Linked DNA regions of Homo sapiens. The protein of the gene in region 1 interacts with the protein of each later gene in a pairwise test. Each region holds a gene or a part of one and is shown in the gene's direction. Other genes may lie near its edges.

Evidence for each region. The genes of interacting proteins can lie anywhere in the genome.
Region 2: the proteins of CATIP (region 1) and HESX1 interact in binary tests that used the Homo sapiens proteins (3 or more experiments, as listed by UniProt).
Region 3: the proteins of CATIP (region 1) and MEDAG interact in binary tests that used the Homo sapiens proteins (3 or more experiments, as listed by UniProt).

What each region holds. Positions count from the first base shown.
Region 1 is NC_000002.12:218,351,766-218,360,363, forward strand, and holds the start of CATIP (ciliogenesis-associated TTC17-interacting protein), read left to right. Parts: upstream 1-5,091; 5' UTR 5,092-5,119; coding exon 5,120-5,144; intron 5,145-5,296; coding exon of another isoform or gene 5,297-5,329; coding exon 5,330-5,422; intron 5,423-5,768; coding exon 5,769-5,969; intron 5,970-6,148; exon of another isoform or gene 6,149-6,201; intron 6,202-6,220; exon of another isoform or gene 6,221-6,271; coding exon 6,272-6,327; intron 6,328-8,598. UniProt on the Homo sapiens protein: Plays a role in primary ciliogenesis by modulating actin polymerization.
Region 2 is NC_000003.12:57,197,338-57,204,233, reverse strand, and holds HESX1 (homeobox expressed in ES cells 1), read left to right. Parts: upstream 1-4,255; 5' UTR 4,256-4,315; coding exon 4,316-4,472; intron 4,473-5,281; coding exon 5,282-5,481; intron 5,482-5,741; coding exon 5,742-5,843; intron 5,844-5,938; coding exon 5,939-6,037; 3' UTR 6,038-6,396; downstream 6,397-6,896.
Region 3 is NC_000013.11:30,902,032-30,909,270, forward strand, and holds the start of MEDAG (mesenteric estrogen-dependent adipogenesis protein), read left to right. Parts: upstream 1-4,239; 5' UTR 4,240-4,484; coding exon 4,485-4,762; intron 4,763-7,239. UniProt on the Homo sapiens protein: Involved in processes that promote adipocyte differentiation, lipid accumulation, and glucose uptake in mature adipocytes.

The sequences.
Region 1 (8,598 bases):
CTTCCATACAAGGGTGTGTCTCACGGATGGAGCAATGGCGAGAGCACACCTGAACAAGGGAGGGGAAGGGGTTCTTATCCTAACTCAGCTAGTCCCTACTGCTGTGTCTTTCCCCTATTGGCTAGGGTTGGACCACACAGTCTAAGCTAATTCTGATTGGCTATTTTAAAGAGAGCAGGGGTATGAGCCAGAGTGGTGGGATAGGTAGTTTGGCAGGAAGGATGGTTACAGAACAGGTGACTCAGGATGACTAACAACAGAGCAGGTGACCAAGGGTGACTAAGTTCAGAGCAGGTGATAGAGGCTAGGAGGGGGTTGTTTACTGTAACTAGGGGCAAGGAGATGTAAAGAACGAGAAACTTTAAAATGAAGAACAAAGAACAGGAGAGCTGAATATACTGATACATTGGTTCTTTGAAGAGGATCTCAGAACTCATTGTGCTTAACAATTTATAGGCTAAAACCTTTGAAGAGGAATTTATTATATCCTACAATCTTATACTTGGCCTGATTATTTGCGTAAAGTGCAGCAAGAATGGTTATTTTTACTTACATAGGCCTTTTGCATTGGCTTTAATGAAACTCTGTTTCACAAGGAATTTCAGATAAGACTTTTAAAGCCAAGCCCAGCCATGGGTTTGTATCCTCTAACACCTGTGAGTTGGGTGATCCTCTCTTGAGGTCCCAAGATAAACTCAGAGCTTCCAGACCTGTTACAAAGTTATGTGTCTGTTCTTTTACCAGTACCATGCTGTTTGGTTACTGTGGCCCTGTAGTGTAGTTTGAAGTCAGGTAGCGTGATGGATGCAGCTTTATTCTTTTTGCTTAGGATTGCTTTAGCTATTTGGGCTCTTTTTTCATCTGATATTAATTTTAAAATAGTTTTTTCTAGTTTTGTGAAGAATGACAATTGTAGTTTAATGGGGACAGCACTGAATCTATAAATTGCTTTGACTAGTATGGCCATTTTATGATATTGATTCTTCCTATCCATGAGCGTGGAATGGTTTTCCATTTGTTTGTGTCATCTCTGAGTCCTCTGCACAGTGGTTTGTAGTTATCCTTGTAGAGATCTTTCACTTTCCTTGTTAGCTGTATTCCTAGGTAGTTTATTCTTTTTGTGGCAATAGTGAATGGGAGTTCGTTCATGAATTGGCTCTCTGCTTGCCTGTTGTTGGTATATAGGAATGCTAGCGATTTTTGCACGTTGATTTTGTATCCTGAGACTTTGCTGAAGTTGCTAATGAGCTTAAGAAGCTTTTGGGCTGAGATGATGGGGTTTTCTAGATATAGGATCATGTCATCTTCAAACAGGGATAGTTTGACTTCCTCTCTTCTTATTTGAATGCCCTTTTTTTCTTTCTCTTGCCTGACTGCTCTGGCCAGAACTTCCAATACTATGTTGAATAGGAAAATATAAATTTTAAAACATAAGTATTGGCTGGGCACGGTGGCTCACGCCTGTAATCCCAGCACTTTGGGAGGCTGAGGCGGGCGGATCACGAGGTCAGGAGATCAAGACCATCCTGGCTAACGTGGTGAAACCCTGTCTCTACTAAAAATACAAAAAAATTAGCCAGGTGTGGTGGCAGGCGCCTGTAGTCCCAGTTACTCAGGAGGCTGAGAGGCAGGAGAATGGCGTGAACCCGGGAGGCAGAGCTTGCAGTGAGCCGAGATTGAGCCACTGCACTCCAGCCTGGGGGACAGAGCGAGACTGTCTCAAACAAACAAACAAAAGTATTTTTAAAACTTTTAAGTTCAACTTACCAGTCATATAATTCTCATCATAAATCTAGTGAATGTTAACATTTTTTAGAAACAGGGTCTCACTATGTTGCCCAGGCTGGTCTTCAACTCCTGGCTTCAAATCATCCACCCACCTTGGCCTCCCATGGGATTACAGGTGTAAGCCCCTGCACCCAGCCAAGGGGGCTTTAATTAATAATTGGTTGGTCTTCTTTTCAAAATTAAAACTGCTTTAGGCAGCTTATACTGCAGTTGTTCATCCAATATATTTTATTTCCTTTTTTAAAGCGATTGATTGATAAACCAGCCTCCCAAATACCTTTACTGCAACCTAATAAAAGTAAACATATAAATACAGTAAATCTTAATTTTATTTTTTTTAATGTTCTGGTTCTACTTGCAATCTCAATAAGAAACTTTAAAATTCAAAATCAATTATTCAATAACCCAATTTAAACTTGAATCTGCAGACGTATCTTTTAAGCACTCTAATATACCAATTTTAAACATTTTAAGAACCTGAAATAACAGAGTTCTTTCCTTTCGCTGCTGCAGCCGCAGCCATAAATATGCTCAGGCTTTAGAAGAGGTTCGCTTCTAGTGTCCTCTGCTGTGGCAAGAAGGTCTGGTTGGACCCCAGTGAGACCAATGAAATCGCCAATGCCAGCTCCCATCAGCAGATCCGAAAGCTAATCAAAGATGGGCTGATCATCGGCAAGCCTGTGATGGTCCATTCCCAGGCTCCATGCCAGAAAAACACCTTGGCCTCCCGGAAGGGCAGGCACACGGGCATAGGTAAGCGGAAGGGTACAGCCAACGTCCGAATGCCAGAGGTCACGTGGATAAGGAGAATGAGGATTCTGTGCTGGCTACTCAGAAGATACCGTGAATCTAAGAAGATTGATCGCCACATGTATCACAGCCTGTACCTGAAGGTGAAGGGGAATGTGTTCAAAAACAAGCGGATTATCCTGGAACACATCCACAAGCTGAAAGCAGACAAGGCCTACAAGAAGCTCCTGGCTGACCAGGCGGAGGCCCGCAGGTCTAAGACCAAGGAAGTGTGGGCAGAGGATTACCCAGGTGCCGAGGCAAGAGACTGAAGGCACAGACGGTTTCAGTATAATAAAGAAAATAGTTAGAATAAGAATAGTCATAATACAAAGTAGATATAGAGATGATCATGGATAATTATCAATCATTATTATAAACATTATTAATCATTAGCTTTTAATATTACTCTTTGTTGCATTACTAATATAACCTAGGAATAACCGGCGGGTATAGGGTCAGGTGCTGAAGTGACATTGTGAGAAGTGACCTAGAAGGCAAGAGGTGAGCCCTCTGTCACGCCCCCATAAGGACCACTTGAGGGCTCCTTGGTCAAGCGGTAGTGCCAGTGTTTGGGAAGACGCCCATTACTTAGCAGACCGCGAAAGGGAGTCACCTTTCCTTGGAGGAGTCAGGGAACACTCCGCTCCACCAGCTTCTTGTGGAAGGTTGGATATTATCCAGGCCTGCCCGCAGCCATCCGGAGGCCTAAACCCCTCCCTGTGGTGCTGTGCTCCAAAGGTCACGCTCCTTGTCCACTTTCATGTTCCTGCCGTACTCCTGGTTCCTCTTTGAAGTTTGTAGTAGATGGCGGTAGAAGAAATAGTGAAAGTCCTAAAGTCTTTGATCCTTCTTATAAGTGCATAGAAGAAAACGCTGATGTATGCTGCCGTCTCTCTCTCTGCTTCGGCTACCTAAGAGGGAAGGGCCCCCTGTCCTGTGATCATGTGACTTGCTTCACCTTGTCAATCACTTAGAAGACTCGCCCTCCTTACCGTGCCCCCTTGTCTTGTGTGCAATAAATATCAGCGCGCCCAGCCGTTCTGGGCCACTACCAGTCTCCATGTCTTGATGGTAGTGGTCTCCCGGGCCCAGCTGTTTTCTCTTTGTCTCTTTGTCTTGTGTCTTTATTTATTACAATCTCTCGTCTCCACACACAGGGAGAACACCCGCTAAGCCCCGTAGGGCTGGACTCTACAGGTGGATCACTTGAGCTCAGGAGTTCAAGACCAGCCTGGCCAACATGGTGAAACCCCATCTCTACTAAAAATACAAAAATTAGCCAGGTGTGGTGGCGGGTGCCTGTAGTCCCAGCTACTTGGGAGACTGAGGCAGGAGAATCACTTGAACCTGGCAGGAGGAGGTTGCAGCTGAGATCATGCCACTGCATTCTAGCCTGGGTGACAGAGTGAGACTCTTTCTCAAAAATAATTAAAACAAACAAATAAATAAATAAAAATAATAAAAATAAAAATACAAAAATTAGCTGGGCATGGTGGCACACTCCTGTAGTTCCAGCTACTCAGGAGGCTGAGGTAGGAGAATCACTTGAACCCAGGAGGCAGAGGTTGCAGTGAGCCAAGATGGCGCCACTGCACTCCAGACTGGCAACAGAGTGAGACTCTCTAAAAAAAAAAAAAAAAGCGCCTCACCAGGAATAAGTCCAGTCAAAGAGTTTGCTATGTTGTCATTGTTGTTATCATTATTGTTACATGTATTAGAACTGTAACTTGCAGAGATATTCATGTAGCAGCTAATTGGATAGTGTGCATTTGAGACTCTGTCTGACTTTCGTTCATATCTTCTAAGGTCATTTTTTTTTTTTTGAGACAGATTACAGGCATGTGCCACCACTCCCTGGTAATTTTTGTATTTTTAGTAGAGATGGGTTTCACCATGTTGGCCAGGCTGGATCTCAAACTCCTGGCCTCAAGTGATCCACCTGCCTGGGACTCCCAAAGTGCTGGGATTACAGGTGTGAGCCACCACACCTGGCCTCTTCTAAGGTCATTCTAATGACCCATTTCTTCACTCTGCCTCTTAAGAATATCAAATGTGGGCCAGGCGCGGTGGCTCACACCTGTAATCCCAGCACTCTGGGAGGCTGAGGCAGGAGGATCACGAGCTCAGGAATTCAAGACCAGCCTGGCCAATATGGTGAAACCCCATCTCTACTAAAAATACAAAAATTAGCTGGGCGCGGTGGTGTGCGCCTGTAGTCCCAGCTACTCGGGAGGCTGAGACCTCAAGAAGAATTGCTTGAACCCGGGAGGCAGAGGTTGCAGTGAGATGAGAATGCGCCACTGCACTCCAGCCTGGGTGACAGAGCGAGATTGCGTCTCAAAAAAGAAAAAAATATATATCAAATGCTCCCTCTGCTGGACAACACCTCAAGCTTGTGCTGAGCCCCAAACCTGCAGTGTCAGTTCCCTCCAAGGTCTGGGTGTAGTAAAGTGGGTTGATGGCCCTTTAAGAGGCACTGTCCAGCTCTGGTTGCCATGGAGACAGCTGGACACAGACCGGGTAGAGGCAGGCCCACAGCATGTCCTCCAAGGTTTACTCCACAGGTGGGAAGAGGACTGCTGGGGCTGGAGGCGGGGATCCTCTTCTTTCTTCCCAATCCACCCTCGGGGTAGTCTTAGAGGATTCTGTTCTTGGGTGCTGGGGCCAGGACTGAGGTACCCTGCCTTGCCTCCCTGACCCCTGCCCTTCTCCCCAGGGTCTGCCATCTTAGCCTCTCATCCCTCTGTAGGCTCCAGAGCTAAGGACCACCAGCCCTCGGGTCCGGAGTGTCTGCCACTCCCAGAGGCCAATGCTGAAGCCATCGACTTCCTCAGCTCCCTCCGTGAGCTCAGACAGTGTCGGGGTTGGGGGTGCGGGAGGGGTGCAAGTCTGGAGAGGAGGGAAGAAAGTCCAGTCTCTCTCTCTCTCTCTCTCTCTCTCTCTCTTCCTTGATTCTCCTGGGACTCAGAAAAGGCCTGAGGCCTGTTTGTTGACATTCTTCAAGGGAAGGCCCCCCGGGGACATGGGGACATGGGGCAGGAGTCTTCACCTGTCCGTGCCAGTGAGGAAGGCTGTGGGATGAGGAGGCAGGTGGGGACTGTGGGGACACTGGTGGTCATGGGGTCAGAGGATTGGATTGGGGCCCAGGAGCAGGGGCTTTATCTGTTCCCACGGGCCCCTCACCCCAGACAAGGAGGAGCTACAGATGCTGTTCTTCTCTGAGACGCTGGCCATGGTCTCAGACACCGGGGAGCCTCAGGGAGAGCTGACCATTGAGGTGCAGAGAGGGAAATACCAGGAAAAACTCGGCATGCTGACATACTGCCTCTTCGTGCATGCCTCTAGCCGAGGCTTCTTGGACAAAATGCTCTGCGGAAATTCCCTCCTGGGTAGCGTTCCTACTGCCTGATGCCCGTCACTCTCCCCTTCCTCCAACCCTCCCCTCCACCAATTCCTAGAATCTTTTTTCAGGACCAAGCCCTTGGCTTTGCCTTGGACCAGGACAAGGCACGGGGTGGGAGAGGGATGAGCGAGTTCCTCATGGACTCGGGATGAGGGCACATCTTACCCATCCTGTAGTTTTTCTGGGACCGTATTACACCTAGTCCTCCAGCTGCGCCACCACCTTCCCTTCCTTCAGCCTCTGACCCACATCTCCTGTGACGTCAATGCCTGTGTCCCTGCACCCCAGGCTATCTCTCAGAGAAGCTGGAGCTCATGGAACAGCACAGCCAAGACTTCATCAAGGTACTTCCCAGGGCCCCAGCCTTGACCCAATCCAGGGGAGAGAAGACAGATTTTGACTTAAAAAACAGCAGCAACAACAAACCAAAAAACCTATTACATACACAGTGAAGCTGAAGAATAGCAATCGTGTTATGATGCAATGTAAAGCTCAAAAGCAACGCACTTCAGAAAACTGATTTTAAAACACGGGGGTGGGCTGGGCACAGTGGTTCACACCTGTAATCCCAGCACTTTGGGAGGCAGAGGTGGGCGGATCACCCTGAGGTCAGGAGTTCGAGACCAGCCTGGCCAACATAGCGAAACCTCATCTGTACAAAAATTAGCCAGGCATGGTGGTGCACGCCTGTAGTCCCAGCTACTCAGAAGGCTGAGGCAGGAGAATCGCTTGAACCCAGGAGGCAGAGATTGCCGTGAGCCGAGATCGCGCCACTGCACTCCAGCCTGGGTGACAGAGCAAGACTCCGTCTCAAGAAAAAAATTAAAAAACAATGAGGGTGGGCCAGGCACAATGGCTCAAGCCTATAATCCCAGCACTTTGGGAGGCCAAAGTGGGAGGATCCCTTGAGCCCAGGAGTTTGAGCCTGGGCAACATGGCAAAACCCACCAAAAATGTTTATAAATTTTGTACAAAAAATACAAAAAGTAGCTGGGTGTGGTAATGTGTGTCTGTAGTCCCAGCTACTTGGGAGGCTGAGGTGGAAGGTTCAGCGGAGCCCAGGAGGTCAAGACTGCAGTGAGCAATGTGCGTGCCACTGTACTCCAGCCTGGGTGACAGAATGAGACCCTGTCTCAAAAAAAAAAAAAAAAGAAAAAAGAAGAAAAAAGATGTAGGTTGGGCACGGTGGCTCACGCCTGTAATCCCAGCAATTTGGGAGGCTGAGGCAGGCGGATCACCTGAGGTCGGGAGTTGAAGACCAGCCTGACCAACATGGAGAAACCCTGTCTCTACTAAAAACACAAAATTAGCCGGGCGCAGTGGCTCACACCTGTAATCCCAACACTTTGGGATGCCGAGGCAGGTGGATCATGAGGTCAGGAGTTCAAGACCAGCCTGGCCAAGATGGTGAAACCCTACCTCTACTAAAAATACAAAAAGAAAATTATCCAGGCATGGTGGTGGGCACCTGTAATCCCAGCTACACGGGAGGCTGAGACAGGAGAATTGCTTGAACCCAGGAGGCGAAGGTCGCAGTAAGCCAGGATCACACCACTGCACTCCAGCCTGGGCAACAGAGCGAGACTCTGTCTCAAAAAAAAAAAAAAAAAAAAAAATGTTGGGGATGGTTTCTGGTTTCTGTGGGAAGGTTTTTAGACTTGAGTAGTTTCCAGTGTGTAAACAGGTCATGTTCACATTCCACAAGTTAATTAAGTGGCTGGGGCTGGGTGTGAGGGGCACAGAGCTGGGAGACTTGGAGGCCAGGTGAAACAGGCCCCCAGGGAAGGCTAGGCTCTGGGAAAGGCCAGCCCACCAGGCCTCCAGGGAGGCACTGGGCTCTCAGGCTGGAGGAGGGCTGGTGTGGGCTGGGTTCAGAGTTTGGGTATCAGGAGAACTTATCAGTGGCAACCTGCTGTCCCTGCACCTGGCCCACCCCCATCTTTTAAAACCAGTGTTCTGAAGTGCACTGTTTTTGAACTTTATATTGCATCATAACACGACTGCTATTCTTCAGCTTCACTGTGTATGAAAGGTGTTTTTTGGTTTTTGTTGCTGCTGCTTTTTTTTTTTTATTTTATTATTATTATTATTTTTGAGACAGAGTCTTGCTCTTATCACCCAGGCTGGAATGCAGTGGTGCAATCTAGCTCACTGCAACCTTCACCTTCCGGGTTCAAGCAATTCTCCTGTCTCAGCCTCCCAAGTAGCTGGGAATTACAGACATGCACCACCACACCTGGTTAATTTTTGTATCTTTAATAGAGATGGGGTTTTGCCATGTTGGCCAGGCTGGTCTTGAACTCCTGACCTCAAGTGATCTGCCCGCCTGGGCCTCCCAAAGTGCTGGGATTACAGGCATGAGCCACAACACCTGGCCCTGCTGCTTGGTTTTTTGTTTGTTTGTTTGTTTGTTTTTGAGATGGAGTCTCAAAAACAGCCTGTTGCCCAGGCTGGAGTGTAGTGGTGCGATCTCGGCTCACTGCAACCTCCGCCTCCGGGTTCAAGCAATTCTTCTGCCTCAGCCTCCCAAGTAGCTGAGACTACAGGCATGTGCCACCACACCCAGCTAATTTTTGTATTTTTAGTAGAGACGGGGTTTCACCGTGTTAGCCAGG
Region 2 (6,896 bases), on another chromosome or scaffold:
CAGCCTGGACAACATAGTGAGATCCTATCTCTAAAAAAACATAAAATAAAATAAAAAGAAAAGAAAAAACTTCAGTGGCTTAAACAATGAATATGTTTCTCACAAAACTGCAGGTCAGTTGGTATTTGGCTGAGATTGGCTGGACTTGGCTGACTTGGCTGCAGGCTGCAAGATGGATTAGGATCTGATCCATGTGTGTTCATTCTGGGGCTCAGGCTGTAGGGCAGCAGCTATCTCAGGGATGATCTCACAGTGAAGTCAAAAGCACAAGAGGGGGCTGGGCACCTGTAATTCCAGCACTTTGGGAGGACGAGTCAGGCAGATCACTTGAGGTCAGGAGTTTGAGACCAGCCTGACCAACATGGTGAAACCCCGTCTCTACTGAAAATACAAATTACACGCCTGAATCCCAGCACTTTGGGAGGCTGAGGCAGGCAGACCACTTGAGGTCAGGAGTTCAAGACCAGCCTGACCAACATGGTGAAAACCCATCTCTACTAAAAATACAAAAATTAGCCAGGTGTGATGACATGTACCTGTAGTCCCAGCTACTCGGGAGGCTGAAGCAGGAGAATCACTTGAACCTGGGTGGTAGAGGTTGCAGTGAGCAGAGGTTGCGCCACTGCACTCCAGCTTGGGTGACAGAGTGAGACTCTGTCTCAAAAAAAAACAAAAACAAAACCCCTAAATGGGCACACTGAGCTTCTGCTCACATCACTTCCCACAAACAAGCCCAAAATCAGGAGGTAGGAGGTATACTGTATTCACCATGAAACCACAGCAAGGGGATGGTTGTATAAGATATTATGGGGATTGGAGAATTGGGACCAAGTATTCAATTATTCTATCTCCCATAACCTTCTAAAGAATTGCACTTCTCTCCAAATCTACCCTCTCTCCTCACGCTTTTTTCAAAGGATCATCATCTTTTGCCGCTAAACAATTGTCTTTGTTTTCACCACTGTATCCCTCACACCTAGAACAATGCCTAGCAAGTAGTATATGCTTAGCAAATTATGTGTTGAATAAATAACTCCCCAACTGATCTCCCTGGTTGCACTCACTTCTCTCTAATCCCTTTCCACAGAGCAGCCAGAGTAAGGTTTAAAAACAAATTCTATCATTTTGGTCCCAGCTTAAAACCCTACCCTGGCTTCTCTTTGCACTGGAACTCCTTACCATGTCCTTTATAAAGGCCATCCATTATCCAGCCTAGCCTGGCTCTCCAAATGCACCTGGTACCACTGACTTCACTCCAACTACTGCCTTCTTCCTCCTCAAACATTCCAAGTGATTTTCAACTGCAAGACCTTTGTACTTGCCATTGTCTCTGAGTGCAGTGCTTTTTCTCAGGCTCTTGGCATGCTAGCTCAGCTTCAGTGAAAATGTCACTTCCTTAGGCCCTCCTCCACCATCGACCATCGACCTCTGTATTTTAAGTCACCCTCTGCCATTATATTGCATCTCCATCACCTTGTTCACTCCTTTCAATGTATTTATCATGCCATGAAATTAGCATGTTTTGTTCGTCACTGATCTCTAGCACCTATAATAATGTCTGGCACATATTAAGTGCCCTGTAAAAGTCTGTTGAGGCCAAGCATGGTGGTGGCTCACACCTGTAATCCCACCACTTTAGGAGGCCGAGGCAGGTGGATCACTTGAGGTCAAGAGTTTGAGACCAGCCTGGCCAACATGGTGAAACCCCCATCTCTACTAAAAATACAAAAATTAGCCAGGCTTGGTGGTGCACACGTGTAATCCCAGCTACTCAGGAGGCTAAGGCAGGAGAACTGCTTGAACCCAGGAGGTGGAGGTTGCAGTGAGCCGAGATCACGCCACCGCACTCCAGCCTGGGTAACAGTGAGATTCCGTCTCAAACAAACCAGCAAACAAACAAACAAAAATCTGTTGAGTGAGTATATGAGAAAATGCTTCCCTCACATTTTTAGATAATTTTTCCTGCCTTTTATTTTCAACTACTCATCCATATATAAAATGATATGTGTAAATCCAGCCGGGCGTGGTGGCTGAAGCCTGTAATCCCAGCACTTTGGGAGGCCGAAGCGGGCGGATCACGAGGTCAGGATATCGAGACCATCCTGGCTAACACGGTGAAACTTCGTCTCTACTAAAAATACAAAAAAATTAGCCAGGCGTGGTGGCGGGCGCCTGTAGTCCCAGCTACTCAGGAGGCTGAGGCAGGAGAATGGCGTGAACCCGGGAGGCGGAGCTTGCCGTGAGCCGAGATCACACCACTGCACTCCAGCCTGGGCGACAGAGCAAGACTCTGTCTCAAAAAAATAGATAGATAGATAGATAGATAGATAGATAGATAGATAGATAGATAGATAGATATAGATAGATAGATATAGATATGTAAATCCAAGGAAAATCAATTTAAGCTGAATAAAAATATTGGAACATCTTTGTTAATAAAGAAGAAGTTGAAAACTGGAGTTGCTCTGGCATGCGCTGTGGCATCCTTCTGCCTTGTGCCTCTTAGGCACTCATCTGCGGGGCTCAGGGGCTCAGTGAGGCCTACACTGACATCTACCCCTCCACTTCCTGCACTAATTCATCTTACCTGGCTCACCTGTTTCCTTTTCTCATTCTTACCCTGGCTAACATACTAGATAATTTACCTATAATTATTATTTGTTTCCTGCCCCCCACCCTGCACCACTGTGAGCTCTATGAAGGCAAGGATAGTATTTTGTTTTTTTCTGGTTCTGAGAAGGTGCTCAACCAATTGTGGAAGGAAATAATGAATGTCTCAAAGGAGAGAAAGAAAGCTGAAAAGGTCCTGTATTCTCTCGCTTCCTCCTAGTCGTCCCAGATTAAGATACCCCCCACCTTTGCACAATCTACATCTCAGCACTATATACAAAATCTCCATGAGGTATAAATGTTCACCGGTTTATTCATCCGCAGAATGGTTTTACACGTACATTTATAAATCCATATGCCTGTTGATGTTTTGCATGTGAGATCCTTTATTTACCCGAGAGCTTTCATCAGGAGGAATTTAGCTCAATATTTGTGAGATCATAATAGGATAAAAGCTGATGAAGATGAGCTCCATCCTATAGAGGCTATTTCCTCTATGAGTGGAGACTGTTTTTCCCTTCCCTGAAGGAAAGAACAGCAGTTGTTTAAATAATGAATAAAGCTAAGCACTTAAATTTATCTTCAGGAAGGTACTGGAAGAAGAGGAGGAGCAGAGTATAAAAACTACAAGTATACCTTTGCGGGGGGAACAGCCAGTTCAAAATCTTCCCAATCAGCAGTTATACTTTAATTTTAATTTCAAGTTTTCTTAGGATTATGAAATTAAAACATTCTGTTCTTGGTTATTTTCATAAGCCTTACCATCTTGAAAGACTCCATCCTCTGCCCATCCCTCAAAAGATCAACAGACGGAAATTTTTCTTTAGAAAGCAAACTATGTTCTTTTCTTTGAAATAACTGTGATAGAGAAATTATTCACTTTAAGTAGTCATGCTTCTAAGTTGCTTGAAGGTGATTACATATGAACCTTCATATAAACATGTATCTCTCTCATTTAAAAGAAAAGAGGAAGGAAAGGAATTAGCCCATTAATTATTTAAAATACTTGGTGCAACTGTTCCTATGAATTAATCCAGGCACTTGGAAGACAATTACACTCCATGTTAATAACATTGCCAACCTTTTCCACTATGCTGCACTCCAAATACTATTGTGTTTTCATTGACAACATTCCCTATTACATATGCATATGAAAAACAGGCATTTTCATCAGAATTACTGTAATAGCATTAAGAGATTATTATTTTTTCCCATTTCCTTGGAAGAAAATTTACTTAAATTAGATTATTTATTACTCGACTGCTCTCGTATCTTGCCTGTATGTTTAGGTAACTGGAGCCCATGAAAGTATAAACTTCAGAATAAAAAGCTTGATTTTATACATTAATGATTTCAAATAAAAGATAAGTGCCACATTTGTGCATCACTTCTTTAGAGAAAGTTAAGTCTGTGTTCTGCTTAGGAGAGATAACACTTTTTGTCCCTGTAGGTGGCCCCCCTGGTGTAGCCATTAGTTGCTAATTACTTGCAAACAAATAAACAATTAACTCCTTAAGCTGCTGGCTGGGCAAGTGTTCATTGACATGCTAAAACTTTCTAAGACAGGATTTTAATTAGTGACGTTCTAAATCCAGCCCCCTTGTCAGCGGAGCTATAAGGTGAACTGCAGGAAGATCCCAGCCCTATACACGTGGGGCAGAGCCAGCAGAGGCCAGAGCTGTTGCTCTGTGCAGACCACGAGAGGATGTCTCCCAGCCTTCAGGAAGGCGCTCAGCTCGGGGAAAACAAACCCTCAACTTGCTCCTTTTCAATTGAGAGAATCTTAGGACTGGACCAGAAGAAAGACTGTGTTCCATTAATGAAACCCCACAGGCCCTGGGCAGACACCTGCAGCTCATCAGGTATGCCACAGCTTAATTGTTTCAATTCTTTGTTATTTCATTTACAGTGTTTAATTTGCCCTTTATTTCATACTACATAGAGCTAGAGTTTAGGACTTTAATTTAATTTATTATTATTATTTATTATTTTTTTTTTTTTTCTGAGACAGAGTGTTGGTCTTGTTGCCAAGACTGGAGTGCAATGGCATAATCTTGGCTCACTGCAGCCTCCGCCTCCTGGGTTCAAACGATTCTCCTGCCTCAGCCTGCCAAGTAGCTGGGATTACAGGCATGCACCACCATGGCCTGCTAATTTTTGTATTTTTTAGTAGAGGGGGGTTTCACCCTGTTGGTCAGGCTAGTCTCGAACTCCTGACCTCAGGTGATCCGCCTGCCTCAGCCTCCCAAAGTGTTAGGATTACAGGCATGACCCACCACGCCCAGCCAGAGTCTAGGACTTTTAATGCCTCCAACTGAGTCCTATGGGAAATTAAAAGAATATCAGCTTTGGATTGAGCAAAGTGGATAAATTCACTCACAGGAAATCCCAAGAACCTGCATTTACTTCAGAAGATCTCTCCCTGTTTGACACATCAGATATTTGAAATCTCTTTTCACTGAAAAATAAACGACATTCAGAGACCAAAGAGGCAGGATTACCAAGACAGGATCTTCATTTTTTATTGGTTTTTGGTTAACGGGGTGCAATTCTCTTGTGAACCCCAGAATTCCACTAGGAAATGAAAGATGAGTTCCTGAAACTACCTCTATAGAACTTTGTGGAACATAAGATTGACCATCTAAGACAGGGCTTATTTTTTTGTTTTTAGGGAAAGATGGTAACTTATGTCTACATGTCCCAAATCCTCCCAGTGGGATTTCATTCCCTAGCGTGGTGGATCACCCAATGCCAGAAGAAAGAGCTTCGAAATATGAAAATTACTTTTCAGCCTCAGAAAGACTGTCTTTGAAAAGAGAGTTGAGTTGGTATAGAGGCCGAAGACCAAGAACTGCTTTTACTCAAAACCAGGTGGGAAGTTTTTTCACCCAATAATGATAATATAAAGGCTTTAATTGACACCAAGTTGAGCAAAAGCCCACTCACTTTGGTATCTCAGTTTAGAAGCCTTATTAATGAAACAGTAGACTACCATATTTTAACAATTTCCAGGTAATCATTTTTAAAAAGGCATCCAGATTAATTGCCAAGATTTAAATGTAGTCATTTTACTCTAGAAATTAAAGCTCATTTTTGGAGACATACTGAATATCAACATTTTTTTTTCTTAGATTGAAGTGTTAGAAAATGTCTTTAGAGTAAACTGCTATCCTGGTATCGATATTAGAGAAGACTTAGCTCAAAAATTGAATCTAGAGGAAGACAGAATCCAGGTAATTTTCAAATTTAGTTGTTATTCATGATGTTGAAATGTTAAGAATAATAAAATAATGTTTCTGAGACCTATTTTATTTTTCCTTAACTTTAGATTTGGTTTCAAAATCGGCGTGCAAAACTGAAAAGGTCCCATAGAGAATCACAGTTTCTAATGGCGAAAAAAAATTTCAACACAAATCTGCTGGAATAGATAGAAAACTAAACAAGTGAAATTATCTTCTAATTGCAGAGCATGAAGAATCAGTGGAAATATTAAGTGTTAAAATGTGATGTTTTCTTTCCTGCATTTAATCTGAATATTGTCATTTTTTCTGAAAATATATTGTAAATACTATTATAGCATGGTACATATTTGGGCACTTTTAGTTATAGTAAAGACCTTTTATATATATTTTAATAAACATTTTCAGAAAAGATTGCTATTTTTTAAGTAAGCCAAATTAATCTAATAAATTAGTTTGTTAAAATCAATAGACTCATGACTAAGTGATTCCACAAGCTGGATTCTAATTATAAAGTATTTCAAGTAAAATAATCTGAAGAACAAAAGTGTGAGTTGTTTTCATTAGTTTCTTCCATGCACATTTTGAAACATAATTATGCTTCACTATATTATAAATTATGATTTATTCATGAATCTTCAACTTCTCTTGATTTATAGCATAAAGCAGTGAGAATTTCTCACCATTTATCAGAACAAATTCTTACAGTATGTTAGTTTCAAGTTTTTTTTCCAAGCAAAGTCATTATGCCAAAGTAGAAATATACAAGCATCAGCTATCATATTTATACCATTGGTATTGAATTGCACAAAAGAAGTAAGCAGCAAATAAATGCAAAATTTTAAATAGTTTTCTAGTTTAATTTTGTACTTTACTTTCATTCATTAGTGATAGTGATCATGTAGCTTATATCTATTTCCAGTTTAAATGATTTCTAATCAACTGCAATATTAAGTTGACTGAGAAGGTAGGATAACTGACCCACCTTTTGTAAGTGCTCTGACATAGTCACTGGAAATAATCAAGGTGCTTTCTAAGTAACAAAAA
Region 3 (7,239 bases), on another chromosome or scaffold:
GAGCATAGCCACAGACTCACCAATGGGTGATTGCCTTGCTATAAAGTCTCTAAATTTGAGTGGTAACATTATAGCTAAACTGTTAATCTCACTTGTAGCGTAAATAGCTGTGAGGTACCCTACCCCAACTGCAAAGATTTAAAACCATGAAAAATCACTGCTGGTGAGAAGACAAATTGGTGCCAGCCTTTAGGAGAATAATGACACACGTTTCCAGAGCAATGCACATTCTCATATCATTTGTCCCAGTAATTCCATCTCTGAGAGCTTGGATACAGAAAAACGAAATCAAAGTATGAAGATGTTTATTGCAGCATTGTTTATAAGGAAAAACAAGAAACAATCTGAGTGTTCAAGAGTAAAGAAATGTCTAGACAAACAATAGAATATACACTTGATGGAAAATAGCATAGTGATTTAAAATACTATTCACAAAGAAAATGAAATTTTCACAACATAATATACATATAATGTTAAATGCACAAAGCCGAATAAAAATTCTACGATAGGAACACAACTATGTAAGCAAACCAAAAAAAGACTGAAAAGGTCGTCACCAGGAGTGATTGTTTGCCTGGCTGGTACTTGGGTAATGAAAAAGACATTAAACATGAAAAGATCTCTCTAGCTCTCTACTTATTAGCAATGGCTTACATTACATTGAATACTATTTTTTTTCTGTTCACTTTTTCATATCTTTCTCTGGCATTTTGGTAATGCATAAATTACCCATAAAGAAATGCAGGTGTTTTGCTGAAAACGCATCAAATGAAACCTCTAGACAACATACCAAGAAAGCATCTTTAAAATATTTTTATTATGCTCAACATCATTTTTCTGTATAAAACAATACACATTTATTTGGAAAATACAGGAAAAGTGTAAAATCACACAACTGTGGTGAGGTAAAGAAAAATTTCGTTTAATTCTTCTACTCAGATCTAAGTGTTGATATCTTACTATGAAGGAAACGGATTTTTTTTTTTGAGATGGAGTTTGACTCTTGTCACCCAGGCTGGAGTGCAATGGCACGATCTTGGCTCATTGCAACCTCTGCCTCCCAGGTTCAAGCGATTCTCCTGCCTCAGCCTCCCAAGTAGCTAGGATTACAGGCATTCAACACCATACCCAGCTAATTTTTGTATTTTTAGTAGAGATGGGATTTCACCATGTTGGCCAGGCTGGTCTGGAACTCCTGACCTCAGGCGATCCACATGCCTTGGCCTCCCAGAATACTGGAATTATAGGTGTGAGCCACCGTGCCTGCCCAGGAAACGGTTTTTTGATAGGAGGGACTGGTATGTTTATCTTAAACAAATGCATATAATTCTGATATAAAACCCCGATGTAACATTTTACCCTTCAAGAAAGCCAAATCATTCATAGACAGTGTGGTGTAGGTTTAAGGGCAATCAAGAGTTGTTGAGCTTGATCTATGTGAAGCTCATAGGGTGAGTTGTTGAGTTCGATCTATGTGGAATGGGGAGAGTAGGGGCTGGTGAGGGCTCTGTAGTGGACCTGCCCTCCTTGACTTACTAATTGAAAGCAACTTCTGCAGCTGTTATTGTTGTTGAGGTTGTATTCCACCAGCAGGTTGGAGACACAGGCAAAATATAACTAGATTTCAGCCACATGTTTGGACATGGTGCCAGAAGACTAGTTCATGCTGATTCCTGCATTTCTCCCTGTTATTTGAGGACAGGGGCCATCCTCTATTCAACTCTGTATCTCCAGCAAAGCACTGAACATAGCAGATGCTCAATTAACATATGTTGAAGTAAACTAAAGGCCTGGGTTCAAATTCCTACCCTATCATGTATTAGCTAGATGCCCCCATCCACTTCTTTGGCTTCAACCCCGTCTTTGATCTAGAGACTTTCAAATCTCAATCATTGACCTTGTCTTTCCAAAACGCCAGACCCAACTAACTCCTTGCCTCCTGGACTTTTCTACCTTGATGTTCCATAAGTAGCTCAAAATCAGTATGTCCCCCCTGAACTCATCACTATCTCTCCTCAAACTCCTACTCTTCCTCCTGTGAACCCTAGCTTCGTTAATGGTGTCACCATCTCTCTGGGTACCCAAGCAAGAGACTAAGTGGGTCTCTCTGCTCTTTTTCATTTATTTACTCATAAGATCCTTCCTGCTGACTCTGACTCAAAAATGTTGAAACCTCATCTCCATTCCCACAGCTGCTTCTGTTCAGACCCCCATCATATGTTATCTGGATTATTACATCAATCTCCTAACTGGTTTCTCTGCCTCTGATCTTCCTGTTTCAAAACATCTTCTTTGGTCATAACCAAAGGTGTCTATCTGAACTGAGGCATAATTATATCACTTCCTTTCTTTAAAACATCCCAAGGCTCCTCATTGTCTTAAGAATCCAAATTCCTGACAACTCAGAGGGTCTGTCACAATCTGGCTCCAACAGCCCTTTCTGGTCTCATCTCATATAAAACTGACCCCTCTTATCCCAAATAGGATGGTCTGCCCTAGCTGTTTAAAAATTTCCCCCCTCCCCCAGATGGAACCATAGCATCTCTCTTTGCATAGAATGGTACAGAATCTTCTCTCCCATCTCCTTATTGCTGCTGCTCCTTCCCCTGGGAGCCTCCCCTGTGTATTGGAAGTCTAGCCATGTGTCACCTCCTTTGAGCACCCTTCTTGGGGCAGAACCACTTATTTCTCATAGTGCTTAGTCCATACATCTATGGTAGCACTTATTGGATCCTTGTGTGTGTGTGTGTGTGACCTCAGAGCTTAAGATGGTCCCTGGTGCATAGTGATGACTCTGTCAATGTTTGGGACAAGAGTGAAGTTCTAAATAGGGCACAATGGATTTAACTGCTGGCACCAAATCCCTCCCCTGTGAAAACAGCCCCAGCCTCTGAGTCCTGTCTACAGTCTCAGCCCACCCCAGACCCATTCTCTTTGCAGGGATCCTCAAACCTCCCTTTGCAAGAAGATCTTCTGGATGCTTTTTTCACAGGTAGAGCATCCTTCCTGCGCCACAAAAGGTTGAGTGGGTAGTGATCAATTCATGCTCAGTGAATTAGATTTGTTCAGAGAGGCCCAGAGATGGGGTAATGATCCCATGGGTAAAAGATCCATGTCTGGAGAAAGGATAGGTGTGCACCTAGAAGAAGAGAAGAGAGTGGGGCTCATTTATATTCTGAGATTTAAATGAGATGTGGCGGGAGGACTCTTCATCCCATCTGATTAAACCTACACAAGAGTTCATGTGGGGGCACACAAAGACTAACTAAGGATATTCTCTACGTTCTACTCAACTTTTGGGATGTAGCTTAGAATCCTAAAACACAGTACTACAGAAAGCCTCGAAACTAGGCTAGATTCTCCTCCCATCCCATCCAGGCTTCTCCGCAGCAGAAATAGGTGTTTAATTAAATGGAATAATATAGTTCTCCTTTCATACCTCAGGAGATCAATGAGCCCATAGCTAGCACTCACATATTTATAGACTGAAGAAATGAACATATTCTGGGGCTCAAGGAGATCACCACCTACTGGGGAGGCAGGGGAGAAGGGAGGATGCTAGGACCCTGCTATCCCCACTACACGGCACATTGCAGTCTAGGGTTCACCGTGCAGTAGAAAGGAGAAGCAAAGCGATGAAACCCTCGTGGGATTCGTGAAGGCTTTATGGAAAAGCGATGTGATGATCAGTGGGATTTCTAGGGGGAAGGGATCCAGGGCCAGCAACCAGCTGAAGGAAAGGCTGAAAGGAGGGAAATGCAGGGTACGATCTGGATGGAGTTAAAATGGCAGAAAACTGAGGCTGAGTGAGAGGTCTGGTACTGAGGTGGGGATCGGAGTTCCAGCACTGGCCTTTGACAGCCTCTGGGTCCCAGGTGGAATGGGTAGGGCCAGAGCCCTTGCCTTCTTCTCCAATCAACACCAGGGGTGTGGTGTCTTAGGCAAGGATGGGTGCTGTGCGCCCTGCCGCCCACCATAGGCAGGGCCTGGGAACCCGGGGAGGACTCTCCCCACCTCCAGCCTCCGGCAGTGTCCGCCAGGCAGGGCGGGGGCCAGCGCTGGTGTTGAGTAGTGGACCCCAGGGGGATGACTAAGCCTTGCCTGCGAGCAGACTCGAGCATGCCAAGTTATGAGACGATGATAACTCTGCCCCGAGCCTCTGGGGTCGTGGCCGTGGGCCGGCAGGGGCGAGGCGGGCGTCCAGAGGGCGGATAAAAGGGGCCGCGCTGCGCCGGGGCCGCTTTCTCCGCGCGGTGCCTGCAGGGCTCCCAGCGAGTGGCAGCTTGGGAGGGGCCGCCCGGGCGGTCAGACTGGCACCTGAGCGGCCACCGCGTCCCGGCCAGGCGGGCAGACCGACCCCCTCCTCACCTCGCGCGCGGCTGACGCAGGCAGGGCGCCCGGCCCCTCCTGGGGACCATCAGGTGCCGGCTGGGGGCTGTAGGCACCGGACGGAAGCAGGCGGTGTGAGGACCGACGACGCGGGCATGGCGGGGGCGGCCTGCGAGCCGGTGGCCAGGCCGAGCCTGACCTCCATCTCGTCTGGGGAGCTTCGCAGCCTGTGGACCTGCGACTGCGAGCTGGCCCTGCTGCCGCTGGCTCAGCTGCTGCGCCTGCAGCCCGGTGCCTTCCAGCTGAGCGGCGACCAGCTCGTGGTGGCCAGGCCCGGGGAGCCGGCGGCGGCGCGGGGGGGCTTCAACGTCTTCGGTGACGGCCTCGTGCGCCTCGACGGGCAGCTCTACCGCCTCAGCAGCTACATCAAGAGGTGGGTGGCCTCGCCGTGCGCCCTGGCCCGTCGCCTGGTACCCGCAGACGCCTCCACCCGGCTGCGGTCTCTGGGAGCCTGGGCTGTCCTCGCTGCCTGCGACACCGCGTGGCCCCTTGCTCCGTGCGCTTCTAGACTTTCCTTCTGCTTCTATCACCCGGAGCCTGCACGCTCGCCCTGGTTCTTCTGCCTCTTGCACTGACATTTTGCAGCTGCTGCTTGAAGCCGCCCAGAAGGGCATCAGGACTGGGGGCGAGGGGGAGGGCAGGGGCCCCCCAGCCAGAGCTCATGAGTGGCAGATGCTTCTCCCATTCTGGCTCCTTAACTGGGTCAGATGAGCTCAAATTGGGAGCACACCCTTTAGGGGCTGTCTGCAGCTCTGCAAGACTCACATCCTGGCTTTGGAGCATGGGTGGCGGTGAGGAGCAGGGGGCATGCACCATTCTGAGCACTGCCAGCCCTCTCCAGTGAGGAGACCGAGTGGAGAAGCATGCAAAAGCTCAAAGTTTCCCATCTCTGGCCTCACTTCGTGTTTCAAAAGTAAACAAATAAACCGCAGCTGAGAAGGGAACAAAGCCCCTGGAAGTCCAGCCCGGGGCCATGTGGGCTGTGGAAGGCACAGATAAGTTCTGGGGAAATAAGTGCGAAACCTGAGGGCCTTAATGGGAAGGAGGCCCCCAGGATGCTTGACTGTTGTGGCCAGAGTGCCCCCAAGCTCTTCTTGGCAGACCGGCAGGATGTGGCCCAGCCATCTGAAGCAGGCTTTGGTGCCACAGGGTAAAGGAGGGCACTTCAGGCCTGATTCCACATGGCCTCAGGCCTCCAGAGTTCACTCTTGGCAAGGGCCTGGAGTGCAAAGACCTGTTATATTTGTGCTGAGAGAGCCAAGTGCCTGAAGAGGCAAGCATGGTCTAGAGTTTGACTCAGAAATGAATAAGATAGCCAGCTTTTGAGACACAGCGCCTTTGCTACTGGGAAAGACAGCGTGCTGTGGCACCCTGTGGGTAGGAGGGAGCCAAGAGAGGGAAGCAAACAAAATGAGATATTGAACGTGCAGTCTTCAAAACTCTTGGAGAAAAAACCTTGCTTTTCCAAAGATAGTGAGGGCTCTGAATGCCTGAAGAACCATTCCCCAGCAAGAATTTCTCCCTTTCTTAGTGAAATGAAAATTCCAATTCCAAACCATAAGCGGAGGACTGTGGGAGGAACTGAGTCAGATGTGTGCAGATTTAAAAAGAAGATACCCATTGTATTTGAGAGCAGGGTATGAAAAATAAAAATGTCCAGAATGAACGAAGCCGTAAGTTAGGGTTTTGACAGAACCAGTTCTCCTAATTGTAGCAAACAGTGCTGCAGAATCTGAAATGATTTTGAAGTCTGTCATCTAACTTTTGCTTTGAACACCTCCTACACAAAAGAAAATTAAACAACAGTGATTCCCCTGACAGCTTTGAATCTAGAATAAACAACTGGGCCACAGTGACCAGGTAACACAGACCAGGGTGCAAATACAAAACAACAAATAATAGGCTATCATTGTATAAGCAATACTGTGAGGGCTTCTTTTGTACCTGGGAAATAGCAAGGAGCCTCTGAAAATAATTTGGGTGATGGAAGGAGCTATCTATTGTCCTCAGGCAGGGAAGGAGGCTTTTATAACTGAGTGTGCAGTCCTGAAGGATGGCCAGGAGGGAATGTGGTCTAAATGGAGACAGCCTTCCAGGCAGAGGGGGAGGACTGGACTGTGGGCAGCAGTGAGAGGTTCTGCCCTCGGGAATCAGGAGGTGGGAGGTATGCCGAAGCCAGAACTCAGATATCTAAAGCTTCGTTCCTCTGAGCTGCCAAATTTGCCAGTTGTTTTTGGCTTTAGAGATAGCATAAAACCTCCCTCCCTCCCCTCCCTCCCTCCCCACTTCCTTCCCTCTCTCCCTCCCTCCCTCCCTTCCTTCCTTCCTTCTTTTTGAAAAATAAGCTCTGGCCAGTTTTATTAAAGATTTGCATGATTTATTTTCACCAGTCTGTTCTGGCATGCTTCCAAAGATCTCAGGGCTGGGTGCAGTGCCTCATGCCTGTAATCCCAGCACTTTGGGAGGCTGAGGTGGGCGGATTGCTTGAGTCCAGGACTTCGAGGCCAGCTTGGGCAACATAGTGAGACCTCCTGTCTACAAAAATTAGCTGGGCATAGTGACATGCACCTGTGGTCCCAGCTGCTCAGGAGGCCGAGGTGGGAGGTGGATGGCTTGAATCTTGGAGGTGGAGCTTGCAGTGAGCCGAGATGGTGCCACTGCACTCCAGCCTAGGCAACACAGTGAGACCCTGTCTCAAAAAAAAAAAAAAAAAAAAAAAATCTCAGCATTCCCTGGATCAGTGACACCAGGGTGCACTTGCTATGGTATTTTCCACATGCTGTGCCCAATTTAATGTTATTACTGCTGGAGTGGTAGATGGCAGTTTTGAGAGTATGCACCTTAGTTCTG